2 linked regions of the Homo sapiens genome follow. The protein of the gene in region 2 interacts with the protein of the main gene of each other region in a pairwise test. Each region holds a gene or a part of one and is shown on either strand. Other genes may lie near its edges. The genes, in order: ZNF273 and CA14.

The links.
Region 1: the proteins of CA14 (region 2) and ZNF273 interact in a two-hybrid assay, tested with the Homo sapiens proteins (one large-scale study listed by BioGRID and IntAct).

The regions. Positions count from the first base shown.
Region 1 is NC_000007.14:64,909,625-64,913,446, reverse strand, and holds part of ZNF273 (zinc finger protein 273), read right to left. Parts: intron 1-3,822. UniProt on the Homo sapiens protein: May be involved in transcriptional regulation.
Region 2 is NC_000001.11:150,263,156-150,265,880, reverse strand, and holds the end of CA14 (carbonic anhydrase 14 precursor), read right to left. Parts: coding exon 2,682-2,725; intron 2,583-2,681; coding exon 2,462-2,582; intron 2,223-2,461; coding exon 2,202-2,222; intron 2,088-2,201; coding exon 2,003-2,087; intron 1,289-2,002; coding exon 1,222-1,288; coding exon of another isoform or gene 1,191-1,221; 3' UTR 803-1,190; downstream 1-802. UniProt on the Homo sapiens protein: Reversible hydration of carbon dioxide.

The sequences.
Region 1 (3,822 bases), on a different chromosome or scaffold from region 2:
GTATGTTACACAGCGCTTCGCTGGAAATAACACATTATGTGATTGAATCCTCGTAACACCCTGGGAGCTAGTACCAAACATTCAATAATTCCCAGGATTTAAATGAAGGGCCCAGCATTTTTACTTCTTCTTCTGTTTCTCTGTCACTGATTTTTTAAAAAATGCATAGAATAAAAACAAAATATAGACAGATGAGAGAGACACAGAAAGGAAAATTTCAATGTAGTTTAAAGGAATTTTTATTGTGTTTATATTTACTTTTTTGTGACTTGTGAAACAATCACTGGATCTGCAAGAATAGAAAATAAGTTGCTGGCCGGGTGCAGTGGCTCAGGCCTGTAATCCCAGCACTTTGGGAGGTCAAGGCAGGTGGATAGATCACCTGAGGTCAGGAGTTCGAGACCAGCCTGGCCAACATGGCGAAACCTCATCTCTACTAAAAATACAAATATTAGCTGGACATGGTGGTGTACACCTGTAGTCCCAGCTACTTGGGAGGCTAAAACAAGAGAATCACTTGAACCCAAGAGGCGGAGGTTGCAGTGAGCCAAGATCGCACCACTGCACTCCAGCCTGGATGACAGAGCGAAACTCAATCTCAAAAAAAAAAAAAAAAAAAACTAAAATGAATCCTGAGTCAAAAAGAAAAACAAAGGGTTTATTTAGCTGTTCATATGATTTACATATATTCAAAAAAGCAGAAAAATATCTACATATAATCTAAATGCTTTAAGAAAACAGAGAAGAGCAAAATATTCTCCCTTATTTTCAGGAAACAGAATCATAAAGCCTCTTATTTCTAATTTATATTTTCTCCTACAACAGCCAGGTCTCAGGACATGCTCTTGAACTCTTGGACATCTGAACTCAGTAGATAACTGGATTCAGGCATCTAAGGAGTAGCCTTGGGCACACTGTGTGCACTTTAAAGAATGTTTATGGGGTGGGGGGAACAGAAGAAAAGAGGTGTTATTCATGAGTGCACATGAATAAAGCAAGTTCTTAGAAACCTATGAAGAGACTTCGATTCTAGCACAGTAATAGTGGAAGAAAACAACACCCCACAGACACTATTAGACAGATTATTGAGGCAGGAAATTAACAAAGATATTAGGACCTAAACTCAATACTTGATCAAATAATCCTAATAGAAATCTACAGAACTCTCCAACTAAAAACAACATAAATGGCCAGGCATGGTGGCTCACGCCTGTAATCCCCATACTTTGGGAGGCCGAGGCGGGCGAATCACCTCAGATCTGTTCAAGACCAGCCTGGCCAACATGGTGAAACCACGTCGACTCTATTAAAATTAGAAAAATTAGCTGAGTATGGTGGCGGGCACCTGTGATCCCAGCTACTAGGTAGGCTGAGGCACAAAAATCGCTTGAACGCAGAAGGCAGAGTTTACGGTGAGCCATACAATTACGTGGAACTTAACCTGCACTTGAATGATATTTGGGTAAATAATGGAATTGAGACAGGAATCAAGAAGTTTTTTGAAACAAATGAGAGCAAAAATACAACATACCAGTATCCCTGGAACACAGCTGAGGCAGTGTTAAGAGGGAAATTTATGCCATTAAATGCTCACATCAAAAAGTTAGAAAGATCTCGATTTAACAACCTAATATCACAAATAAAAGAATAAGAGAAGAGCAAATCCCTAAACTAGCAGAAGACAAGAAAAAACTAAAATCAGATGTGAACTGAAGGAGATTTAGACATAAAAAAACTATACAAAATATTAAGAAATTCAGAAGTTAAAACTTTGAAAAAATTAATAAAATAAACCAATAGCGAGATTAATGACGATTCAAATAAATACAATTAGAAATGACAAAATGAACATTACCACTGAACATACAAAAATACAAATAACTTGGCCAGGCACAGTGGCTCACACCTGTAATCCCAGCACTTCGGGAGGCTAAGGCGGGTGGATCACCTCAGGTCGGGAGTTCGAAACCAGCCTGACCAACATGGAGAAACCCTGTCTCCACTAAAAATACAAAATTAGCCAGGCATGGTGGCGCATGCCTGTAATCCCAGCTATTTGGGAGGCTGGAGCAGGAGAATCACTTGAACCCAGGAGGCAGAGGCTGCAGTGAGCTGAGATCATGCCATTGCAACCAGAGTGAAACTCCATCTCAAAAAAAAAAAAAAGGCTAGTTCACTATAATCAAGTAGGCTTTGTCTTTAAAATGCAAAGTTGGTTCACCATACACAAATCAATAAATGCTATTTATCACATAAACAAAACTAAAGACAAAACCCACAAGATTATCTCAATAGCTGCAGAGAAAGCTTTTGATAAAATTTAACATACTTCATGTAAAAAACCTTCAACAAACTAGGCATTAAAGGTACACACTTTAGCCCAGTGCAGTGGCTCACTCACGCCTGTAATCCCAGCACTTTGGGAAGCCGAGGTGGGTGGATCACCTGGGGTCAGGAGTTTGAGACCAACCTGGCCAACACGACGAAACCCCATCTCTACTAAAAATAGAAAAATTAGCCAGGCATGGTGGTGCATGCTTGTAATCCCAGCTACTTAGGAGGCTGAGGCTGGAGAATTGTTTGAACCTAGGAGGCGGAGGTTGCAGTGAGTCGAGATTGCACCATTGCACTCCAGCCTGGGCAATAAAAACAAAACTTCGTCTCAAAAAAAAAAAAAAAATAAATTACAGATTTAATGCTATTTTATCAAATTACCAAAAAGATTCTTAACAGAAAAAAAAACTATTTTAAAATTCATATGAAACAAAAACAAACAAAACTTGAATAGCCAAGGCAATCTTAAGCAAAAAGAACAAAGCTGGAGTCATTACATTACCAGACTTCAAACTATACTACCAGGCTACAGTTACCAAAGCAGCATGGTACTGGTACAAAACAAAACAAAACAAAAAACAGGCTCATAGACCAATGCAACAGGACAGAGAGCCCAGAAATAATGCCACACACCTACAACCATCTGATCTTCTACAAAGCTGACAAGAGGAATGTGGGAAGAATTCCCTGTTTAATGGTGCTGGAATAACTAGCTAGTACTATGTATAAGATTGAAACTGGACCCCTTCCTTACACTACATACAAAAGTCAACTCAAGATAAATTAAAGACTTAAATTTGAAACTTAAAATTATACAAAAGCCCTGGAAGATAACCTAGGAAAGACCATTCTAGATATAGGAACTGGCAAATATTTCATGTTGAGGATACCAAAAGCAATTGCAACAAAAGCAGAAATGGACAAATAAGACCTAATTAAACTAAAGAGCTTCTTCACACCAAAGGAAACTATCAACAGAGTAAAAAGACAACCTACAGAACAATAGAAAATATCTGCAAACTATGCTTCTGCCAAATGTCTAATATCCAAAATTAATAAAGAACTTAAGCAAGTTTGCCAGAAAAAAAAAACTAGGAAAAAAGCATGAACAGATGTTCTTCAAGAGAAGACACACATGTGGCTAACAAGCATATTAAAAAATGCTCATTATTAATCATTAGAGAAACGTAAAGAAAAACCACAGTGAGATACAATCTCATACCAGTCAGAATGGCTATTAATAAAAAGACAAAAACAAACAAACAAACAAAAAAAAACGATGCTTGCAAGGCTGCAAAAAAAAAAGAATACTTATACACTGTTAGTGGGAGTATAAATTAGTTCAACCACTGTGAAAGCAGTGTGATGATTTCTCAAAGAACTAAAATCAAAATTACCATTTGATTCAGCAACCTGAATACCCCAAAAATACTCTATATACCCCCCAAAATATAAATTATTCTATTATAAAGACACATGCAAATGCAT
Region 2 (2,725 bases):
CTAAACTGCCTTTTTTTCTTTTTTGAGGTGGGGGGAGGGAGGAGGTATATTGGAACTCTTCTAACCTCCTTGGGCTATATTTTCTCTCCTCGAGTTGCTCCTCATGGCTGGGCTCATTTCGGTCCCTTTCTCCTTGGTCCCAGACCTTGGGGGAAAGGAAGGAAGTGCATGTTTGGGAACTGGCATTACTGGAACTAATGGTTTTAACCTCCTTAACCACCAGCATCCCTCCTCTCCCCAAGGTGAAGTGGAGGGTGCTGTGGTGAGCTGGCCACTCCAGAGCTGCAGTGCCACTGGAGGAGTCAGACTACCATGACATCGTAGGGAAGGAGGGGAGATTTTTTTGTAGTTTTTAATTGGGGTGTGGGAGGGGCGGGGAGGTTTTCTATAAACTGTATCATTTTCTGCTGAGGGTGGAGTGTCCCATCCTTTTAATCAAGGTGATTGTGATTTTGACTAATAAAAAAGAATTTGTAATTGTGGGGGAACTTGGCTTTTAAGGGAGGGGATAGCATGTTAATTGAGATTTCTGTCCTCAGATCTCTCATCCAGCCACTTTCCTAACCTGGCAACCACTGATTTCCAAGCATAGCCTTGGTGCAAGGGCAGAAATCTGGGCTAGTGGTTTAACATGTCTGAAACTTTGGGTTAAGTGTCTTCCCAGAAGCTTATCTTTCCTTCCAGGGGTGGGATAAAAGGAGTTAATCACCCATGCTTCTTTTCCCCATCCTTTGCCCATCTTTACCACCTGAGGGATTCAGGAACTTGCCCACCCTCAAGAGCCTCAAAGGATAGGCCAGAATTAAAGTCAGAAACTTTAATTTCCAAATATATTGATCAAAAATATACAACTTCAACAGCAACTCTTTATCCTAAGGAGAGATCCCGCAGTATATCTAGGGAAAGGGCCATAAAAGTGAGGGGGTAGAGGACTTTGGGGTATATCCCAAACTTCCCCTGCAACTAAACAGAGTTTGTTCTCTGCATTAACAACACAGCGATTTCCTCATTTCCTCCTACATGTTTGGAGAGGCTGAAGGCTCTGCAGTTCTTCCTGGAATGACAGCCTGGGTCCATTCCTCTCTAGGAGATGTCCAGGGGAAGGAGGACATCTGCTTACTACTCCTACAGTGTTTCTGGCCAGATCCTACACCCCATTTTAGAGGCTTCCTGATAGGCATGAAGGGAAGTCATCCACATCCATGGTATCTGAGAAGGAATTTATGCCTCAGTCGTGGCTTGTGCTGAGGTGAAGACCACACTCTTTCGGTTTTCCAGCCTCTTCTTCCTGGAAAGGGGAATGGCTCATGAGAATGACTGCTATCTAAGTGAAGCAGATTAGAGGTGAAATAGGAGAATGCTTTTTAACAGAAAAGAGGGCTGGGCAAGGTGTTTCACACCTATAATCCCAGCACTTTGGGAGGCTGAGGCGGGCGGATCACTTGAGGTCAGGAGTTGGAGACCAGCCTGGGCAATGTAGTGAAAACCCGTCTCTGCTAAAAATACAAAAATTATCTGGGCATGGTGGCACATGCCTGTAGTCCCACCTACTCAGGAGGCTGAGGTGGGAGGACCACTTGAGCCCGGGAGGTGGAGGTTGCAGTGAGCTGTGATAAAGCCATGCACTCCAGCCTCGACAACAGTGAGAACCTGTCTCAAAAAGCGGGTGGCTCATGCCTATAATCCCAGTACTTTGGGAGGCTGAGGCAGGCGAATTGCCTGAGGTCAGGAGTTTGAGACCAGCCTGGCCAATATGGTGAAACCTTGTCTCTACTAAAAGTACAAAAATTAGCTGGGTGTGATGGTGCGTGCCTGTAGTCCCAGCTACTCGGGAGGCTGAGGCAGGAGAATTGCTTGAACCCAGAAGGCAGAGGTTGCAGTGAGCTGAGATTGCACACCACTGCACTCCAGACTGAGTAACAGAGCAAGACTCCGTCTCCCACCTACCAAAAAAAAAAAAAAAAAGAAGAAGGGACTGGAGGAATGGAAAGTAGGGCCTCACCGAATCTTTCTAGCAATGAAATAAACAGCCAGGAGAAGGCAGAGACAGCCAACCAAGATTCCTACACCTAGACTCAGCATTTCACCTGGGGGAGATAAAGGTAAAAGGTGTCAGCCTAGGACTAACATAGATTTTGAGCCTTTCCCCCACTCGGTGAGGACACCTCCCCTCCCCGCATTATCTTATAAGGCTGGCTTACCTGTGGTATACGAGGATCCTGCTGTAAGAGAAGAAAATGGGTCAGTGGGACTTCAGATCCCCATCCCAGCTGGGAGCAGCACTCTCTGCTGCTGTGCCTGGGAGAATCCCCCGGGGGCACCCTGGGGTGGGGGTTGGTTCCCAGTCCAAGCAAGTCCCAGAAACCCCCTCCCCTTTTAGCCTTTTCTTCCCATTGGCTCCCTAGTTCCTGCCATTGTGTCCCCCTCAGTTTCCCATCTCTTCTGAGCCGTGCAGAATCACCTTGGATGAAAGAAGCAAAGACCATGCGCTGATTGAGAGGCTGAAGGGCTCGGTAGTTCTGTACCAGAAGCTTAGAGGGCTCCTCTTCTGTGGAGAACAATGTCCCCTGAAGCTTTTCCAGCTGAGGAGCAGAAGCGTGGGAGAGGTGTTACTTTGGGGAGTGGGAAGGGGTCTGAAGTTACAACTGTGTCTCACCTCACCTCGTTTCTCCACCACTTACCTGTTCCATTGAAATCTGGGACCTTCTATAAAAAACTGTCCAGA